Linked DNA regions of Homo sapiens. The protein of the gene in region 5 purifies or fractionates together with the protein of the main gene of each other region. This does not show direct contact. Each region holds a gene or a part of one and is shown on either strand. Other genes may lie near its edges.

What was found.
Region 1: the proteins of GALK1 (region 5) and CKMT1A fractionate together in Homo sapiens (co-fractionation; one large-scale study listed by BioGRID). This does not show direct contact.
Region 2: the proteins of GALK1 (region 5) and CKMT1B fractionate together in Homo sapiens (co-fractionation; one large-scale study listed by BioGRID). This does not show direct contact.
Region 3: the proteins of GALK1 (region 5) and MCCC1 purify together in Homo sapiens (affinity purification with a luminescence readout, with the first as the bait; one study listed by BioGRID). This does not show direct contact.
Region 4: the proteins of GALK1 (region 5) and CD9 purify together in Homo sapiens (co-immunoprecipitation; one study listed by IntAct). This does not show direct contact.
Region 6: the proteins of GALK1 (region 5) and NDUFS4 fractionate together in Homo sapiens (co-fractionation; one large-scale study listed by BioGRID). This does not show direct contact.

The regions. Positions count from the first base shown.
Region 1 is NC_000015.10:43,696,859-43,699,722, reverse strand, and holds the end of CKMT1A (creatine kinase U-type, mitochondrial isoform 1 precursor), read right to left. Parts: intron 1,710-2,864; coding exon 1,575-1,709; intron 1,083-1,574; coding exon 957-1,082; intron 751-956; coding exon 634-750; 3' UTR 501-633; downstream 1-500. UniProt on the Homo sapiens protein: Reversibly catalyzes the transfer of phosphate between ATP and various phosphogens (e.g. creatine phosphate).
Region 2 is NC_000015.10:43,592,545-43,596,826, forward strand, and holds the start of CKMT1B (creatine kinase U-type, mitochondrial precursor), read left to right. Parts: upstream 1-1,482; 5' UTR 1,483-1,674; coding exon 1,675-1,823; intron 1,824-2,150; exon of another isoform or gene 2,151-2,334; coding exon of another isoform or gene 2,335-2,427; coding exon 2,428-2,626; intron 2,627-2,829; coding exon 2,830-2,925; intron 2,926-3,311; coding exon 3,312-3,533; exon of another isoform or gene 3,534-3,534; intron 3,535-3,662; coding exon 3,663-3,748; intron 3,749-3,863; coding exon 3,864-3,987; intron 3,988-4,282. UniProt on the Homo sapiens protein: Reversibly catalyzes the transfer of phosphate between ATP and various phosphogens (e.g. creatine phosphate).
Region 3 is NC_000003.12:183,017,108-183,019,496, forward strand, and holds part of MCCC1 (methylcrotonoyl-CoA carboxylase subunit alpha, mitochondrial isoform 1 precursor), read right to left. Parts: intron 231-2,389; coding exon 159-230; intron 1-158.
Region 4 is NC_000012.12:6,227,900-6,231,399, forward strand, and holds part of CD9 (CD9 antigen), read left to right. Parts: intron 1-3,500. UniProt on the Homo sapiens protein: Integral membrane protein associated with integrins, which regulates different processes, such as sperm-egg fusion, platelet activation and aggregation, and cell adhesion.
Region 5 is NC_000017.11:75,762,393-75,766,459, reverse strand, and holds the start of GALK1 (galactokinase), read left to right. Parts: upstream 1-1,267; 5' UTR 1,268-1,323; coding exon 1,324-1,488; intron 1,489-2,373; coding exon 2,374-2,563; intron 2,564-3,020; coding exon 3,021-3,140; intron 3,141-3,310; coding exon 3,311-3,446; intron 3,447-3,574; coding exon 3,575-3,756; intron 3,757-4,067. UniProt on the Homo sapiens protein: Catalyzes the transfer of a phosphate from ATP to alpha-D-galactose and participates in the first committed step in the catabolism of galactose.
Region 6 is NC_000005.10:53,640,639-53,644,138, forward strand, and holds part of NDUFS4 (NADH dehydrogenase [ubiquinone] iron-sulfur protein 4, mitochondrial isoform 1 precursor), read left to right. Parts: intron 1-3,500. UniProt on the Homo sapiens protein: Accessory subunit of the mitochondrial membrane respiratory chain NADH dehydrogenase (Complex I), that is believed not to be involved in catalysis. Complex I functions in the transfer of electrons from NADH to the respiratory chain.

The DNA.
Region 1 (2,864 bases), on a different chromosome or scaffold from region 5:
CCCTAATTTGGTGCTGTCTGGCTCTTAGAGTGCACCCAGGGAGATCCCTGGAGTGAAGGAGTCTACAGGCAGAGCGCTAATTTCCAAGTATCAATGCTCCTGGAGAGCTGAGTTGTGATATTACTCCCATTCCCTGTCTATTATAGGTCGAAGTACAGCCTGGGGCCTCCAGGACTGGTCACGACCTTCCTGGTCCCTGGTATTGACTATCAGCTTCCTTGGCCACCTGCTATGAGCCTGTCTCTACAGTAGAAGGAGATTGTGGGGAGAGAAATCTTAAGTCATAATGAATAAAGTGCAAACAGAAGTGCATCCTGATTATTTTCAGAAGCTGATGAGGAATATGGGTAAAATGTTAATGCTTTCCACCCACCTGAGAATCAGTGTTCCTGGGTTGCCATATCTGGAGTCTCTTTCCATCATAAATAATCCCACTGCCTCTTTTCATTTCCTGAAGGCTGCTCCCTCCTCACCCCACCATTAGAAGTAACACAGACAGCTGCAGCATAGCAAGGAGTCTTTACTAGGATGGAGGCAGGGGATGCGAGGGCAGGTCCAGAGCAAGTAGAATGGGCCATCATTAGAATGAGCAGAACTCCTTGGAATCTTGAGTCATCAGCTGGCGATGGGGAGTTAATGCTTGGTGTGGATGACAGGTGTGGGGATGCGGATATCCTGGCCTCTCTCCAGACGCCGTTCACAATCAATCAAATAGTTTACTCCATCGATGACCAGTTGCACCAGCTCCACCTGAAGGACACTAATCTTTGATCTCTGCTTCCTACAGTCTGAGTTTTTCTTTATCACTGACTGACTTGCCTGCTCATTTCCAATTGCCTCCCCACTCAACCTGAATTTCATTTCAGATTATGTTACATCCCGGAGGCTCACTCACTGCCATATTTCAGCCCCCACAGACCTATACCTCTCCTCATCCTAATCCCTTAGGATCTCACCTCTGATTTGCCTAGTCGGTCCAAATTAGAAATATCAAAGACACCGCCTGTGGCAGCAGTGTCCACTCCTCCAGTACCACGCTTTTGGAGTCTTAGGTTCTCCAGGATCTTTGGGAAGCGGCTATCCTAGAGAGGAGATAGGGATTGGGAGCAGGGTCAATAGAGGCAGAGACTAGTCCTACCTGAAAGAGCCCTGAACCTGCTCAGAGCTCTGTCTCCTGAACTTTTTTTTTTCCTTTTTTCTTTTTTTTTTTTTTTAGACAGGGTCTCTCTCTGTCACCCAGGCTGGAGTGATCACAGCTCACTGAAGCCTCGACTTCCCAGGCTTAAGTGATCCTCTCACCTCAGCCTCCACTACACCCAGCTAACTTTTGTATTTGTAGTAGAGATGGGGTTTCACCAGGTTGCCCAGGCTGGTCTTGAACTCCTGGGCTCAAATGATCTGCCTGCCTTGGCCTCCCAAGTGTTGGGATTAGAGGCATGAGCCACTGTGCCTGGCCTGTCCTCTGACCCTTTAGCCACAACATGTTTGGCTCCTCTCCAAAGGGTCCACTCCCTCCCCATCCACAACCCACCCTTCCTTACTCACACCCCTCTGTAACCCCACAACTCCTTTACTTTGCTTAGCAGGGGCAGTTTGATGTGCACTCCTGCCCGAAGTCCAGTGCCCAGGTTAGATGGACAGGTCAAGATGTATCCCAAACGCTCATTCCACATGAACTCCCAGCCACGTTCTTGGATAAGTCTCTCCACCTGAGTCCACAAAGTTTTTATTAATGAAAAATCAGGGATATTTCATTAACCCTGGACCCTCCCTTAGCTAGACCCACAAGAACACTAGAAATTTGTCTAGAATAGAAACTTGGCTGTGAATGAATGACATTGGTCTTTTTTTAAATGAAAAAGGTTTGTTATTGTTTTCATGCATGCATGATGCAAAATTATGATGTGCATAATAATGAGATTGTGAAAAAATATCTTATGTGGAAGAAGAAAACTCGAAGGCGTGGTGTATTAAGGATGATCTAGGGAAATGAACAGAGGTGGTAAACTGAACTGAGAGAGGACTGATTATTCAATGAGGTCTGCATGCATCGATTATCTTTGCTTTGCTAATGAGCCTAGAGCTTGGAAGGGTCCTTTCAGACAGAAGATGAAGGTGTAAGCTTTGCCAGGAAGAGGTGAGATAACGTTCTATTAGCTGTGAACGGAGCACCTGTGTGAATGCAGAGAAAGATGAAAACAGAGCAGGAAAGCCAGATTCATAGGAATAGGGGACAGGGGGAAGGCATTTTGCTTCCATTAACCATGTAGTCATGAAGATGACTATTAGAGTTCAAGAGACAAGGGATCTAGCAGAGTGATGATCACAAAGACCACTATCCAACATGAGTAAAGGGATCCTGTTTGTAGTTCAGAAGGAACCATGCCACCAGGGATATCTTATGTGCTGAACATGGGGGGAAACTCTTCCATCCAGAATAATATTGCAGCTAACACTTTAACACTTATTAAGCACTTACTGTGGACCAAGTACTTTACCTGTATTTCACTTAATCCCCACAACAACCTAAAATGTAGAAAATCTCATTATCCCAATTTTACAGATGAGGAAACTGAGGCATATAATTTAAAGGTACTTCCCTACCCACTCATAGTCAGAATATGTTATCTATTACTTGCCAAAAATAGTAGAAACTTCTCAGAATCTAAAAGAGGAGCTCTTTTTCTTTGCAAACCTAAAATAGAACTGTATGTTTGAGAACATACAGTAAGAATTGAATTGAGTTTATGGGGATTTCTAATGTAGACTTGAATACGGAGACCCAATCCATGTAGGATTGATGATTCAGTTCAACCTCTCATCTAGAGCCACATATTCTAGAACTCGAACCATTCTATCCTCCA
Region 2 (4,282 bases), on a different chromosome or scaffold from region 5:
AGAATAAAAGGACACAAGGAAGGCCTAAGGAGAATGAAGGGAATGAGAGTAATATGGGGGAATTTTCTATGTAAAGGGAATTCTCTTTCCCAAATACTCTCTGTTAAGATTTCCAAGTATCTGTCTTGTGGGTACACCAGGATAGCAGAGGGAAGGGACTAATGCCACGGTGCTACTCCACCTTAACTGACCCTCCACGCTGAAGCCCCTCATCTCTATTTCAACTCTAGCATTCATTCTCCTTGCTACCAGGACAAAGGTCAAATCATACCTGGAGCTGGGAAACAAAGCCCTCTCAAATCTGAATATGTGTTTCACGAGGAGAGAGAGAGCAGCAGAGGGGACCACGAGGAAGGCAGAGATTCCCTGACGACCTCATGCCTTTGTACACCACTCGCCTTTACTCTCTGGATTAAACAGCATTAGGGAGACAAGAGAGGAAACACATGTGGTGTCTGGAGACCTGTGCCTGCCTGTTCCAGTCCCACACCCAGTCATCTCACCACACCCTTCACCTCACTTTACCTTCTCCTCCAGCACAGGAACTAGGAACTACGGAGAGAGAAGCCAAGGGAGAGGAGGAGGAGGAAACTAACGATTCCCTGCCCACCCCCACACCCAGCACCACCAACAGGTGGGCAAGCTTGCCGAGAAAACGCAGAGGGCATCCTGTGAGCAGCAAACACATCTGAGCCTGGAAAAGACGCAGAGAAGTAAAAGATCAAAGGTGAGGTAGGGGACGTGGAGGAAAGTGGGAGAGACAAAAGGAAAACAAAAAGTGGGGGATCATGAGAAGCAGAGGCAGGAAATAACAGGGCTTCAGACTTGGGTGCAGAATGGAGGTGGAGGACACAGCACAGATGGCATAAGAATTAATATTTCCTTGGTTCCTCCCAGGGAGTCCTTTCTCAACTTTGTAAGGCGTGCACAGAGGTGGCAAGGAAGCACCTTGCTCCTCTTCCTGGTTCTAAGGAAAAGGTGACCTTGAGCCAGTGGGTGTCTTTCCCAGTGCCTGCCTCTAACCCTGTGCTTTCTCCATATCCTCCTCTGGTATCTGTGTTTATTCCGCGGTTTCCCCGCGGCTGCCCCCGGGAGACCGAAGAGGTGGCTGGGGCAGGCCGAAAGCAGAGGAAAGGTTGGGCAGTGTCACCCTTGCACACCCACAGGGTAGACGGATCGAGTTTCAGCTTAAACCGAGGGGTGTGGGGGAAGGGTGTTGGGTTCAGCTAGTCCACGTGGGTGCTGTCCTCCACTTGGTGCTGAAATCTGGGCGGCCACATCCCCGGGGCGGGAGGGGGCTACATCCCCGGCTTTAGACGCGCGAGTCTCAGGTCCCGCTAATTACCTGGCGGGTGCTGCCCACCCCTGCCCTCGCGCACCTAGCGCGGTGGCAGGCGGGAAGGCGGGGCCTGGGGGAGCCCCACCCCTGGAGACTGCGGCTGGGGCCTCCCTCTCCTCCGCCCGCCCGCCTGCCACTAGCTCATTGCGCCTCTCCTGCAGTCTGATTGGCACCGGCTCCCATTCCGGCTCCAGCCTCCAATCCGACCCCCATTTCGGCTGCAGCCTCGGACCTAGCTCCGGCCCTCGGTCTATCCGGTTGCATCCTCCCTCCCTGTTCCGGATCTTATCTTGCGCCAGCGCCTACTCCAGGATCCCGTAGCCAGACCTCAAGCCATGGCTGGTCCCTTCTCCCGTCTGCTGTCCGCCCGCCCGGGACTCAGGCTCCTGGCTTTGGCCGGAGCGGGGTCTCTAGCCGCTGGGTTTCTGCTCCGACCGGAACCTGTACGAGCTGCCAGTGAACGACGGAGGCTGTATCCCCCGAGGTAACAGTGCCTGAGGCGCGGGAGGAGGCGGGGGCAGGAGGTGATGGGAACGAAGGTGCGGGTAGAAGTGAGAATCCGGGCAACAGAGAAGGGCTATAATCACGAAGGCCCTGGAGCTGGAGGGCTGTGCAGTCTGCAGACCTCAGTGGGGTGGGGGTGGGGGCCAAAACCATAAAGCAAGAACATTCCTGGGGACCTGCCAAGACCAGCTCTGGCCCTACGAGTTCTAGCTGCACTGGCTGCCCAAATCCCTAATTGTAAAGCCAGGAACTATCCTTTTCGCTCCCCTCCATCTCCTTCCCTCATTTCCTCAATTCCTCTCCTTAGGCTTTTCCCCTCCTCCATCCGTAGTGTTGTGTCATGGGAGGAAAGAACTGAGCAGATCTGAAGAAACTGAGCTGGCCAGCCAGAGGCAACTAGAACTATTAGGAAAGCATAGACTCTGAAAGTCCCTAAAGAGATTACCAAGGTTTACCCTCTTTCTAATTCCCCCTCCTCCCGCGGAGCAAAGCCAGACATGGCCAACTGGACAGCTCCCAGGTAACTGCACTAGGTCTAGGCGTCTGTGCCCTCCCTCCATGGTTACTGGGTACCCCCTCCCCAGCGCTGAGTACCCAGACCTCCGAAAGCACAACAACTGCATGGCCAGTCACCTGACCCCAGCAGTCTATGCACGGCTCTGCGACAAGACCACACCCACTGGTTGGACGCTAGATCAGTGTATCCAGACTGGCGTGGACAACCCTGGCCACCCCTTCATCAAGACTGTGGGCATGGTGGCTGGAGATGAGGAGACCTATGAGGTAGGGGGTCCCCAGAGTCTCCCTGATGATCCAATTCATCTTCCCAGTAATCCCAGCTCCTTTCCCCTAAAGACCTCTCACTTTCCCCCAAGACTCTGAGCCCCCCATACTTAAGTTTTCTGAACCAGTGAAATCAATGCACAATTGAAGTCTGGGGAGGGATTCCCTCTCCTTAACCATCTCTCCCTCTTAACTCCCCTTAGGTATTTGCTGACCTGTTTGACCCTGTGATCCAAGAGCGACACAATGGATATGACCCCCGGACAATGAAGCACACCACGGATCTAGATGCCAGTAAAGTGAGTTCAAATATCCCACTTCTGATTTGCATTGCCTGTGTACAACACTCTGTATCTCCAACCCCTTCACCTTATTTCCTGACTCATGGTCATTATACAGCTGAGCTTTTAATCTTAATGTAAGGAAAGAATCATATCTTAAGGGGCAGCATATATGGAGATGGAAGGATAGATAAGAATGACCATGACCCAAGGTGGGTGGTTTGGGGAAAGGTCTGCAATGCCCCCTTCAATTCCAGTGCTTTCCCAAAGGGCCTCTTCTTCCAATGCATGCAGGAAGAATGCACAAAGAGTCCTCTAATGCCTAAGGAAGGTCTCTCCTTTCCCAGGGGCCCTCAGTTCCCACCGTGTTTCTGTGACTTACATTCATTTCCCTTATCTCCCAGATCCGTTCTGGCTACTTTGATGAGAGGTATGTATTGTCCTCTAGAGTCAGAACTGGCCGAAGCATCCGAGGACTCAGTCTGCCTCCAGCTTGCACTCGAGCAGAGCGACGAGAGGTGGAACGTGTTGTGGTGGATGCACTGAGTGGCCTGAAGGGTGACCTGGCTGGACGTTACTATAGGCTCAGTGAGATGACAGAGGCTGAACAGCAGCAGCTTATTGATGTGAGGGCCTTAAGAGGGTGCTGGTTGGTGGGAGCAGATGGGGAAGGCTGGGCCAGATGAGACATGGGCTCTGAAAGGCCCAGGGGCCACCATGAAGATTCTTAACCCAAGTCCCGTTACTCTTCCCAGGACCACTTTCTGTTTGATAAGCCTGTGTCCCCGTTGCTGACTGCAGCAGGAATGGCTCGAGACTGGCCAGATGCTCGTGGAATTTGGTATGAAGCTGCTCATTACCTCTTTTGTCTTCATGCCCTCATAAATGCTTTTTTTCCCTCTATCTCTCCCAATTCTTGCCTTGCCTCTTGATCACTGTCCCTCTCCGGCCCTCAGGCACAACAATGAGAAGAGCTTCCTGATCTGGGTGAATGAGGAGGATCATACACGGGTGATCTCCATGGAGAAGGGTGGTAACATGAAGAGAGTGTTTGAAAGATTCTGCCGAGGCCTCAAAGAGGTTAGAGAAGACTATGTAGGGGAGCTAGGTGGGAGGACATAAGGAAAACCAAAGAGTAGCATAAATAGATTATGTAATTTACCAACCAACCCAGGACATGTCTTATAGTAAAAAGGACTATCTAGGACTCACTCCAGGACTAAAGGTGTAAACCAGCTGGGACCATACTGGGAAAACCAGGACATGTGGTCACACTAAGATTAGGAAAAGAAAGAGTGTCAGGAATCTTAGGAAGTGAACAAGGCTGTTGACAGAGAGTGCAAAGAAGGAATAAATGAGATGGCACGTCAGTGCC
Region 3 (2,389 bases), on a different chromosome or scaffold from region 5:
CAAGAAGGATAGTTTGGTTTTGTTTCCTACAATTAATGCTTCGTCAATCATGGCTTTTCATATTTAAGGTGGTATTAACTTACAAAATAAGGCAAAAGAACCATTAGGTATGATTGCTCCCAAAGTCCTCATAGCAAATGAACTCATGATTTCCTTACCTCCATCTTCATGGCGATCATAACCATGAGGGAATCTCCCGCTTTCACTTTGTCTCCAGCTTTGACAAACACCTTGAGATTCAGTGTGACAGGTTAATATTTGAAAACACAGAGGTCCTAGATATGTTCATCTGCTTCATTATAGTAACCATTTTACTGTCTATATATACTCATAACATCATGTTGCAAACCATGAATATAAACAATAAAACATAAATAAAAAGAAAAAAAACAACACAGAGGTCCTTTGTGGTCCACAGATTTGGTATATAAACTTACAGAGCAGAAGTAGAGCCCATGTGGTTGTGCCATCTGCCAAATGCACTGGTCAAATCAGAGGCCTACAGCCCAAATATACAGGTCAAATCTGAGACCTACAGCCCAAATGCACTGGTCAAATCAGAGGCCTACAGGTCAAATGCACTGGTCAAATCAGAGGCTTACAGCCCAAATGTACAGGTCAAATCTGAGACCTACAGCCCAAATGTACTGGTCAAATCAGAGGCCTACAGCCCAAATGTACTGGTCAAATCAGAGGCCTACAGCCCAAATGTACTGGTCAAATCAGAGGCCTACAGCCCAAATGCACTGGTCAAATCAGAGGCCTACAGGTCAAATGTACTGGTCAAATCAGAGGCCTACAGCCCAAATGTACTGGTCAAATCAGAGGCCTACAGGTCAAATGCACTGGTCAAATCAGAGGCCTACAGCCCAAATGCACTGGTCAAATCAGAGGCCTACAGGTCAAATGCACTGGTCAAATCAGAGGCCTACAGCCCAAATGCACTGGTCAAATCAGAGGCCTACAGCCCAAATGTACTCGTCAAATAAGAGGCCTACAGGTCAAATGCACTGGTCAAATCAGAGGCCTACAGCCCAAATGCACTGGTCAAATCAGAGGCCTACAGCCCAAATGCACTGGTCAAATCAGAGGCCTACAGGTCAAATGCACTGGTCAAATCAGAGGCCTACAGCCCAAATGCACTGGTCAAATCAGAGGCCTACAGGTCAAATGTACTGGTCAAATCAGAGGCCTACAGCCCAAATGTACTGGTCAAATCAGAGGCCTACAGGTCAAATGCACTGGTCAAATCAGAGGCCTACAGCCCAAATGCACTGGTCAAATCAGAGGCCTACAGGTCAAATGCACTGGTCAAATCAGAGGCCTACAGCCCAAATGTACTGGTCAAATCAGAGGCCTACAGGTCAAATGCACTGGTCAAATCAGAGGCCTACAGCCCAAATGCACTAGTCAAATGAGAGCCCTACAGGTCAATCTGGCATTGCTGGCACTGTCGTCCATGGGTAGCACTGCTTAGTCCCCTGTCCCCACCCACAAAACCACTTAGTTTTACTTGAATCACATGAATATACTCCATGTATTTTGAAATCCTTTCATTTTTTTCAAGAATGTAGAAACAAGACACATTGCCAGTAGGGAAGGACTAATATACTTAAATGTCTTCCCCAGAGAGGGAAGAGGGATGAGGGTCTTGACTGGTTTTCTTGTTTTGGGGTTGTCTAGGGCTAAGTATAGTAAGTGTGTTTGAAGTCTTCAGAGCCCTGTGTAGTAAATGTGAAGACAATCTTCATGCAACAGAATCAAACTTATTAGCAACCCCAGAAAGAGATTTCTATTTTCTTTTGTATACATATAAATGGACTCATAGATCCTATATGGTCTCACTTTCGTTTTGGTTAACATGGCTACTAAGTGGGAGACTAACAGAGTTGTGCAGAGATGCCTGCACTATGAGAGGCCTGTGGGAACTGAAATCAAATGAGCTAAAGGCAGATCCAGGTCTCCTAGCTCATACCCACTTGGGGTAAATATTTCCAAACGAGAATAGTGGCTGAAATCACCCACACTATTTAAGTAGTTATTTTCTTCTTCTTCTTTTTTTGTTCCAAGCATATACAGTTGAGTTTTTATGATTTAAGTGTATTTGAGGAGACTCTACTGTATTCAAGTATATAAAAGGAGACTACGGATACTGATCTATCACCATTTGATGTTATATCAGTATGTGCTAGGGTCTAAATGTCTATATCCCTCCAGAATTCATTTGTTAAAATCCTGACCTCCAGGATGATGGTATTTGGAGGTGGGGCCTTTAGCAGGTGATTAGGTCATGAGGGATCTGGCCTCATGAAAGAGATTAGTGCCCTTATGAAAGAGGCCTGAAGAGAGGTCCCTTGTCCCTTCCACCACGTGAGGACACAGAGAAAAA
Region 4 (3,500 bases), on a different chromosome or scaffold from region 5:
AAGCTGCAGGGTGGCAGGAGAATGGTGAGTGCCATTAGAGGAGCTGGGGCTCACCTCTGGGAACCTCACAGGATTCAGATCCTGCAGGTCATTGCAGGGCCCTGCTGGTGGCCGGTGGTCCTACCTGAAGTGACCAGGAGGGTGATTTGAAGGCACAACCCCAAAGAGACACAGATCCCCTAGTTGGGGTCTAAGGGCCACTGTCCACTTAGCTCTGCCAGGGAAATACAGATCCTTTGCAGCGACACCCCATTCGGGGAAGAGAGCGGAGCTTTGAAGACTTCGTTCTGCCTGCAGAAGCGCCGGCAAGGGGGATGATGCACGGTAAAGTTAGAACAGCAGCACTGTGTCTGGGCACAGTGATCAGCCCTGATCTCAGGTGATCCGTCCGCCTCAGCCTCTAGCACTTTGGGAGGCCGAGGCAGGCAGATCACCCGAGGTCAGGAGTTCGACACCAGCCTGGCCAACATGGCAAAACCCCACTTCTACTAAAAATACAAAAATTAGCTGGGCGTAGTGGCGTGCACCTATAATCCCAGCTACTCGGGAGGCTGAGGCACAAGAATCTCTTGAACCTGGGAGGCAGAGGTTGCAGAGAGCTGAGATCACACCACTGAGGCTCTGTCTCCAGCCTGGGAGACAGAGCGGGACTCCATCTCAAAAAAAAAAAAAAAAAAAAAAACAGCAGCACAGCACTCTGAGCACTGCTTAGGTCTGAGCTATGCCCTGAACGTCACTGAACGCTTTAGGAAATAATAATTGTCGTCCATGGGCAAAGGGCCAAGGAGGCGTCGCTCTGTGTCCCCTTCCCCACGAGGCTGTGAGACCAGCCTTCTGTACTGGCCCAGAGCCCTTCTCCTAGCAGATGAGCTTGGAGTGCCAGCCACACCCTGGCTACTTTTCCAAGGAATAGTCATGGGGTGACCGCCCCTTGCACTGGGCCACCAACTGTCTGCAGAGCAACCCACAGGCCAGCCTGACCATGCAGCTGACTTTTCAGGAAACCTGAACAGCCCAGGGGTGTCTTTTCTCCAGTGGGGCCACAGCTTACCAAGTAGAGAAAGAGTATATAACCAGGCAGAAAAGCAAGTGAAAACCTTTCCAACATTCAGAACAGTCTATGGTAAGTCCAGAGCAGCTGACAGCCTTATATGGGCCTTCTCTCCAATCCAGGCCTGGAGATTCAGCCCGTCAGCAAGATCCCTAATCCCAGGCTGCAAACTTGTTGGGGAACTTCATTTTCTTGGTCCTAGGCCAGCAGCCTTTCCCAGCTCCCTGGTGTCCCTCCAGAACCATGGCTGCTGAATGAGGGCATCTAGGGGGGCTCCAGCCAGAGGCCGTGAATGCCCCCCCTTCCTCGGCCAGCCCCCTATCCATGATGAGGTGCCTGGTGATTTTCAGGACACGCGACACTTGGCCTTAGTAAGCTGGCATCCCCATCCTGGCTTGTGACCTGGGGCAGTTCATTTTATTGCTCTGGGCTTCATTTTTCTCCCTCCTGAAACCAGCACAGCTTACACAACCACAGCACAGCTTACACACCCACTCCCCTCTGGGGCAAAGAAGTACAGCGTGTGGCAAATGGAATTCCATTGTGGCACTTATTCCCGTGAACTCGGGAGGGCGGGAACCAAGACGAAACCAGTCGGGGCAGAGGTAGGGCTCCTTTGAACACCTGGTGGAGTTATTTGGATATAATAAACTTTTATTGCAGGCCAGAGGCCCTACCGGATTTTGTTCTCCTTCACACAAACGGGCGTGGTGAGTGCTGTTTGCAGGACAGAGCTGGTGTAGGGACGGGAGCCTGCTGTGTCCTCTCCCTGGGCTAAACTGAGAGCCCTGGTGAACAGTGAAAAACACTGTTCCATTTCTTGTGTAAAGGACACGCTGGCATATGCTACTGCTGCTACACCAGCCTTTCTTTTTTTTTTTTTTTTCTGGGCCTGTAATGTCAGCCTGAAAAAAGCAGAATAAACAACCCTTAAGCAAATTAATACCGTAATCCTAGAGAAGGCTCTGTGATGGATAACTTTTTCCATGAGTCAGACAGCAAGCTAACATTCGCTTGTTTTATAAAGGGGAACACTTTGTCATTTATCAACAGCAGCCTTGGCTAACAAGCTTGGGGTGTAAGCGATGAGTAGCTTCTCCAAAGGGAAGCACTGAATAGCCCTTGTAAAAACCAGCCCGAGCCCTGCAGTGGTTCCGTGACTTCCATGGGGCCTGCTTCCAGATGAGCTGTCCTGTAGCTTGCCGGCTGCTGCTGAGTCCCCGAACACAGCTGCCAGGGGATCGCTTCCCTTTTCCCGTGACTAGAGAGGGCTAAAGCTAGGCACTGCAGATCCGTAGCCATCCACGCAAGATTTAAAGCCCACAAAACCCGTGATCCTAAAATCTTCCTCTGCTGAGCCCTAGCATGAATATTTAATATTAACCACAAGCCCCATTAGGAGCATGTTCTCTTTCTCTGCGTGGGAAATACTTTCTCTTTAGTAGCTCACTTGCAGCTAATCCAATTCCCTTGGCCTCTGCCAGGACCGCCAGGTTCAAGAACTGGGATCTGGACTTAGAGAAAACATGTCTGCCTGTTCGTTCCCACTCCACGGTATTTCATGTGTTTGTAAATCCTTTTGATCTCTTAATACCTCCTGTTTATTCAGCCCCTGCTATGGAGCTCAAAGGAGTGACCTCATCCTTCCTTGACTTGCCCCCATTAGATGGGGAGAAACTGGGGCCTTTCTACTGTCCCCATGTGAGAGAACCAAAGGAGGCTGCCCTCTTACCCAGTGCTCCATGCATGGGGCTGCACAGCCTCCCCAAGCCCAGCTTGTGGCCTCAACAGCGTTTGACTGCCCAGGAAGATGCGACCTGACTTGAGGACAAGCTACATTTGTCCCCTTGCCCAGTGTGGGCCAGGCATGCACAAGAACAATACCCATATTCTTGCAACATGGGGTTTGCCAGTAACCCCACGTGACTTGACCTCACGACGGATGTGGGGGAGAAGGGGGAGGAACAAACGCTCTCTGTGTGCATTCTGCTCTGTGCTGCCCGTGAGCCTCAGCTGCGGGCAGACTGCATGGTTTGTTGCCTGCAAAGTCTCACCCCTGCTCGGGGTGCAGATGTGGGACAGTGAAGTCAGCGTGTCACCTGCCGAGGGTTCTCATCGAGTGTCCTGCTGTGTATTGTGGGGAAACATCACAGACTTTCTCTCTCGCGTGCGTGTTTTCAGCCCCTACATCAAGGATATCTCTCTGGTCCCAGTGAAAGGACAGTAGGGATACAGCAGCAGGTTAAAATTCACCATGGTGATTATTAATGATTGTTACTCATGCTTGGTATAATTGAGATTAACAACAGCTAGCATTTGTTGTGCACATGTGGATTATATCACTTAATCCTCACAGCAATCCTGGAAGTGGGCATTATTGCTACTCCTGTTTTACAGATAGAAAACTGTTGCACAGAGAGGTTAAGTGGCTTCCCCAGAGTCACAGATC
Region 5 (4,067 bases):
AGTTTTCAGAATTGCCCTTGGAATGCAGTTCCCCACTCTTTGGGCACACCCCTGAGCAGGCCCCAAGCTAAATCCCTGGCCATAACTCCCCACACTACTCCCACCCTAACCCCAAGCAAGCTGCTTACATTTCAGTCTTTCAGTTTCAAGGTTCCATGTAGGGTGGGCAGCTGTGGACAGGTATCAAGGCAGCAGTTGGGGCCGGCCAGCAGGTTTAGGATGCAGGATAGCAAGAGAAGAGTGCCTGACTGGGAACAAGGCCACGCCTCTGAGACAAGGGCTTCTGGGCTGAAGTAGTGCCTGCTGGGGCCAACAGCACAACCTACCTGGACAGCTGTGGCAGGTCCTTAAGGGAGGGGCTGGGCCCACTGCTGGCCACCGCCACCCTAGTCCAATTCTCCATTGCTAGGAGCTGTTGCGTATTACCTAGAAAAGGAGCTTGTAAAATTGACTCTCTGGTCACCACCAAACTTGTCTTTTTTTTTTTTGAGACAGAGTTTTGCTCTTGTTGCCCAGGCTGGAGTGCAATGGTGTGATCTCAGCTCACCGAAACCTCCGCCTCCCAGGTTCAAGTGATTCTCCTGCCTCAGCCTCCCGAGTAGCTGGGATTACAGGCATGAGCCACCATGCCCAGCTAATTTTGTATTTTTTAGTAGAGATGGGGTTTCTCCATGTTGGTCAGGCTGGTCTCCAACTCCCGACCTCAGGTGATCTGCACACCTCGGCCTCCCAAAGTGCTGGGATTACAGGCGTGAGCCACTGCGCCCGGCCCAAACTTGTCTGTCTTTATCTCTACTTACAGTGAGTGTCAGGTCACCCTCTTGGAGACCGGTGATCAGAGGCTGATGACCTCTCACAGCTGCTGGCCCTGGGGACCTAGGGGATCCCTTTGGGAATCCCAGGTCAACCGGGTGCCAGCTCCATTGCTCTGGCTGTGTGGGTGGTGGTGGGTGGTGAGGCACATAGAAAGTCACCAGCGCCAGGGAAGGGCAGCTCAGAAATCCTGGTCATGCCAAGTGCCACTCAGGGCTATTCTCACTCTAGTGAGTGCTCATTGGTTCTTCCCGAAGTCCAGAGGGAAGGACACCATCGGGGGCGCTGTATCCCACCCGGCACCATTAGCCCCTGCCACCCACCACCCAGCAGCTGGATTCCCACGGGAGTTGCGGGTGGGGGCGGAACCGGCTGAGGTCTGGGGGCGGGGCGTCCGGGCGCGGGGCGGGGCTGGCGGGAATGTGCGCACCCCCGCGCGGGGCCCCGCCCGAGCATCCCGCGCCGACGGGGCTGTGCCGGAGCAGCTGTGCAGAGCTGCAGGCGCGCGTCATGGCTGCTTTGAGACAGCCCCAGGTCGCGGAGCTGCTGGCCGAGGCCCGGCGAGCCTTCCGGGAGGAGTTCGGGGCCGAGCCCGAGCTGGCCGTGTCAGCGCCGGGCCGCGTCAACCTCATCGGGGAACACACGGACTACAACCAGGGCCTGGTGCTGCCTATGGTGAGGGGCTGCACGGGGAGCCCCTAGCCCGCCGCCGCCTGTCCCGGCCGCCGAGGAGGGCGGGCCTCGGGGACGCTGGGGGCGAGTTCTTCCCGCGGGAGATGTGGGGCGGGCAGCTGCGCCTGGAGCACCGGTGCACGGAAGAGTCCCCGGGACAGGCTGTTCCCCACGTTGGAAGGGAGGAAGCGAGGAAGTGGCCGGGAGAGGGTGCGCGGCCGCCTCTTGGCTCAAGCCCGCCCTCTGGGGGCTGGGGCTCCTCGCCTTCAACCTGGGAGCATGTTCCCCTTAAACTGTGAGGCCCTGTGTGCCACGCAGAAGGGGACACTCCGCGCCTCCGGCCACCGTGGGGCCCCAACCGCAGACCTGGGCGAACGTAGCCTTCTGGCCCAGCCCGTTCAATTTACAGAGGAGGAAACTGAGGCCTAGAGAGGCCCAGTGAACTGCTGGAGGTCACACAGCAGGTTCTTGGCGGGGCTGCGACTTGGGAGTGAGGACTCCCAGCTTTCAGCGGGGGGCGCTTTCCGCCCCATCTGCAGCTTGGGGAGTGCACAGGTACAGGATGTCCAGAGCCACCCCAAAATGTAAAGGCTTTGGAGCTCCAGTGATCTGTTTTCCCTTTGGGCTAGCTCTCCCCCTTGCCCCACAGCTCAGGGCAGAGTCCAGGTCTGTGCTCCAGCTGCAGCCGCCCCGCCCCTGAAGACCTAAGGGGGCAGGGCTCAAGCCCCCAAGGTCAGCTGGCCCTCAGGATCTTCCCTGCGACGCTGAACCTGGAGGTTCAGAACCTGATGACTGTGGAGGCATCAGAACCTCGGCTGGAGGCAGTGTCATTGGAGAGGCTTACTCCAGCTGGCGGAAGCCTCACGTACTGCTTGTCTCTCCTGCCAGGCTCTGGAGCTCATGACGGTGCTGGTGGGCAGCCCCCGCAAGGATGGGCTGGTGTCTCTCCTCACCACCTCTGAGGGTGCCGATGAGCCCCAGCGGCTGCAGTTTCCACTGCCCACAGCCCAGCGCTCGCTGGAGCCTGGGACTCCTCGGTGGGCCAACTATGTCAAGGGAGTGATTCAGTACTACCCAGGTATGGGGCCCAGGCCTGAGCCAAGTCCTCACTGATACTAGGAGTGCCACCTCACAGCCACAGAGCCCATTCATTTGTCTGATACACTGTGGGGAAGGCTTGTAGAGTGGAGCATCCCATTGTACAGATGAGGAAACTGATGCCCCCAGAAGGTCGGGAACTTGCCCTGGGTTTCCCGTGACCTGATTGGAGGAGCCAGGATTTGAACCCCAGCCTTTTTTCCCTCCAGAGCCCTAAACCAGGAGGACAATTAGAAGTGTCCCAGCAACCTCAGAGGGTGGGAAAATGGAGGGCAGTGGGTCCCTTGGCCCAGCAGGTTGGTGGCTTCTGACAATTGAGACACACACCCTAGAAACAGCTGCTAGGCCGTTGCTGCCCTTCCCGCCAGGACACCTGCCCTTCCTGTGCCATCCTCCCAGGCAGCCCCTCTTACCATCACCTGTTCTTTCCCCTGCAGCTGCCCCCCTCCCTGGCTTCAGTGCAGTGGTGGTCAGCTCAGTGCCCCTGGGGGGTGGCCTGTCCAGCTCAGCATCCTTGGAAGTGGCCACGTACACCTTCCTCCAGCAGCTCTGTCCAGGTACCAGCTAGGCCCCAGCCCTGACCCAGCCCTCCTTCCCTGAGGTCTCCAGGTGGTCCCAGCTTCTACTATGCCTTATGGAGGGGGTGGCAGGGACTCTCCCTGGAGTGTCATTGAAGCCACTGCTGCTTCCACCAGCCCTAGCCTCCCCACCTCACCCTGTACTGCAGACTCGGGCACAATAGCTGCCCGCGCCCAGGTGTGTCAGCAGGCCGAGCACAGCTTCGCAGGGATGCCCTGTGGCATCATGGACCAGTTCATCTCACTTATGGGACAGAAAGGCCACGCGCTGCTCATTGACTGCAGGTTGGGCTCGCTCCCCTCGTCCCCTCCCGCCCTGCACTCAGCAGCTCCTGGGTGGGAGTGTGCCCACTGCCTGGCGCAGCAAGCACACGCTTGGCCTCGTCATCTCCCCCATTGTAACTCCACCCCAGGTCCTTGGAGACCAGCCTGGTGCCACTCTCGGACCCCAAGCTGGCCGTGCTCATCACCAACTCTAATGTCCGCCACTCCCTGGCCTCCAGCGAGTACCCTGTGCGGCGGCGCCAATGTGAAGAAGTGGCCCGGGCGCTGGGCAAGGAAAGCCTCCGGGAGGTACAACTGGAAGAGCTAGAGGGTGAGAACTGCCAGGGTGCTCTATCCTGGAGGCGGCTGTGCTCCCTGCTGGCGCCTCAGTGTGGCCTTGACCCTGCCTGGGACCCCGATCTCCAGGGCCTTCTGCCATGCTCTCCCCAGTCCCTTCAAACACTGCGCACCCAGGGTTCCAATCTCAGCAGGGCTGCTTGAAATCCTAAAATGGTCTTATCTAATCAGAAAAATCATGTTTCCATTGTGGAAAATGTAGAAAAGTACAAAGTAGAAAATAATAAGCTATAAGGCCACTACCCAGAGATAGCCACTGCTGACATTTTCACGTTTCCTTTCAGT
Region 6 (3,500 bases), on a different chromosome or scaffold from region 5:
CAAGAACTCACCCATTACCACAAGGGCAGCACCAGACCATTTGTGAGGGATCTGCTCCAATGACCCAAAAACCTCCCGTTAGGCCCCACTTCCAACATTGGGGATCAAATTTTAACATGAAATTTGGAGGAGATAGCCCTTTCCAAAGATAGGCAAAAAGAAAGAAAAGACTTTGTTGCTATAGTGGTTATGGATCTCCAGTTTCCCATGGAATATGACATGCCTGTAATCACACACACATTAATCTGTGACATTAACCATATGACTGACCAGCTAAGGTTGAGATGACAGAATCCCCTTAAAGACCGGGACCTTTATTACAAACTTCCCTGAGAGCTGGTGTGGTTGGACAGAGAATGTCCTTTAAAAAAATGTTTGTTATTTTCTTGAGGACAGAGATCATGTTTTCACTGTTGCTCATTGTGTTCAGTGTCTAATATGTAGTAAGTGCTAAAAAATACGTTGAATAAATGAGAAACATTCTTTTTGTTGCCGAAGGTAACCACTTCACATATGTTATTTAGTACTCATTTTGGTATAGCAAACTGATTTCATACATGATGAAAAAGGAGTCTATTAATTTGCCCAAAGTTGAGAACTGGGATTCCAACCCAGTTTTGACTCAGCCCTTTGCTTTTAGCCAAGGCTTTCCTGCTCAGAAGGATCTAGGAGTGGTAAAAATAGTTTGTGAGATTGAAAAACATGTCTCTAATTATTAGTTTTGTACTCCTTGTATGATTAGTAGCATCATTTGCATGAACTATTTCTATCATATTATCCACAGCAGTTCATTCAAACTACACTTTTGGCTCAATGATAGTTTTGCCCAGTATGCAAAATATAACAGATGTCACATTCCAACACTTGATTCATTGCCTGGTTGGACTCCAACATCAATTTGTTACTTTAACAAACAAACAAAAGTTGGTTCTAATGGCACAACTCAAATTTATTTTTATGTTTTTTATTGTATCTGAATCTATATGGCCCCTAAGTTTTTAGAAGTGTTTAAGTTCTTCCACAGTAAGTAAATAGATATGATAATGCTATCTGCCAACTCTTTATATTTTTTAAACTGTAAAATTTATTTTGTAAAATGTCCTTATTTATGAAACCTTTAATGAGTTTCTTGCTTTAAGTATCTGTGGGTTAGTTGAAAGAAAGTTTTTATTACAGGTCTAAGACTTGCTTTTCTTTGAACATCTTTTATGGTTGAAATAGAATGTAAACTCAGTCATCAAATTTAGATTAGTTTTAGCTGTAAATAACTAATAGTCTGCGGTAGAACAAGTTTCTATAAACAGTATTTTTAATGTTTCAATATGTGCTCTACTAAAACTGTTCAGCATTGATCCATACTAACATGCAATTTAGTGAACTTACTAGGAAAAGCATGATAAAAGTTTTGGCTTTTCTGGGCGTACTGAGAGATCTAGCAAAAATGCATCCCAAAGTGCAAAAACCTTACATTTATTTCTCTTCATGACAAGTGTAAACTGTTAAGGTTAAGTGGGTGGGGCAACCGGAAGTAATTACTAAGGCCAGTGGCATTTTTGTGGTTTAATAAAGGCAGAAGCTAATTATTCAGTTTTTATTTAAGTGAAATGGTGCCAAAAAGGAGGTTCCTGTGGAGCAGCTGCACTCCTTCAGTGTTGCCCTAATTTACCAAAGACACAACTGTCACAAACAAAACTTTTAAACTTGATATATAGCCACAAAAGTAAGGAGGCTTTTGTTGGGAGTGCATGCAGAAGAACTCCTTTATACAAATCAACCGGCAGATGACGGACAATGATGAAAATTTGATTCTTTGAAGTCATAATAGTCATTGAAATGTGTGAAATTCTGGTATTGAAAAGAGAGCGGCCAGCAAGACTCTAAATCCTGGGTGGTTGCAAGAAGCTTGCTGGGAGGTTTTTCTGCATTTTGACACCAACTTCCCATTGCTTGTTCCCTGCTTCCTTTGTTAAAGAAAAAAAAAGTTGAAATCACAGAAGATAAATGGAGACAGTTGATAACCGAATCATACAGTTTTAATATGGAAAACTAGTATTTTATCATGGAAATTGGTATTTGAAAGAATAAAGTTCATATACATATACTGGTACATTCATAGTGATTTTTTAAATTTTCTCTTCATTTATGTAGACTTGTGAAATGGCAGGTCAGCTATCATCTCCTCCAAAATTTAAAATTGTTGAAGATATGGTGTTGAAAGAATGAACTTTGGAATTATGACATGCATCTTTCCAATAGCAAATTTTGACTTGAATGCCCTTAATCTGTGAATTATCATTGACTTATTAGTTATCATTTATTAAAATAGCATATTGCACATAAGGTTGTATTTCTGAAACTTTATTAGGATAATGACATTAATAATGGAAGCATAGGTTTCATACTTGACCCAACTATTCAACAATTAAGTTTTAAAATTCAATAAATCTGTGTATATTACTTATAGAGTAGCTTGTTTTATTAGAATTTACAGATAATTATTAACTGGTGAGTCTTGAGGTTCTTCAGGTGCCAGCTTGAAGGCTTTTCATACCTATGTGATTTAGTTTTTTGAATTATTATTTATAAATTATTTATCTCTATTTTACCAGTAAAATAAGAAATTTGTAAAAGGCAATAGTGACATCTTTCTCCAAAGCATTTCTAGCTTTTCTAAATAGGTTTCAAAAACTCACAGGTGATCCATATTGCCATACAAAAGTAGAAATCCATAAAGAATACAATTAGTTCAATATAATTTAAATAGTTTGCGGATTTTAAATTTTTTTGTGAAAGTTAGATCTCAGGTAGCTCCGTGTGAATTTAGAGGGAACCACACAAAGCGTTGAAGACACAAGTAGAGTTCAGCATAGTGCCTCATAGTTCTTTTCAAGTGTTACATTGTTTTAATGGAATCTTGGAGTGGGAGCTTTAGCCCATTGAAATGTGCTTAAAGAACAGGTTCTTCTGTCACTAGCCGAAGCTGTGTGGATGAAATGATAACAATAGGGTGTCGTGATGCATTTTTAAAGTGTGAGAAATCAGGTTGTCTAGACTGAGAGTGTGCCTACAGGGACTAGGAATTTTAGAGCCTCTGTACCCTTTAGGTGTCAAGTATATGAGAGATGCCAAGCCTCTTTATTCTGTCTTTGGCAGCAGCTCAATTGGGCTGTAGTACCTTACATGTCTTCTGCATGCAAAAACTGATTCTGTGTCATGACAACTTGGGTTCCCAAAATCAGAAACCCACTTGTTCAAATGCCAACTTTAAATTAGGGTAAGATACCAATAAATAATTGCTGTAATTCGAGAAGACATGGAAGATTGGTAGTTATGAGTTCAAAATATAAATAGCTTAGCAACATTGTGTAGACACTTTTTAAAAAAGGTTTTCTATATACTGTCCTTTCTACTTTGTAGCTCAAATACTGTTTTATAGTATAAATCAAGAAATACTATTTCAATTTTTTTCAAAACTTGAAAAAGTTTAAAATCTTAAGTTT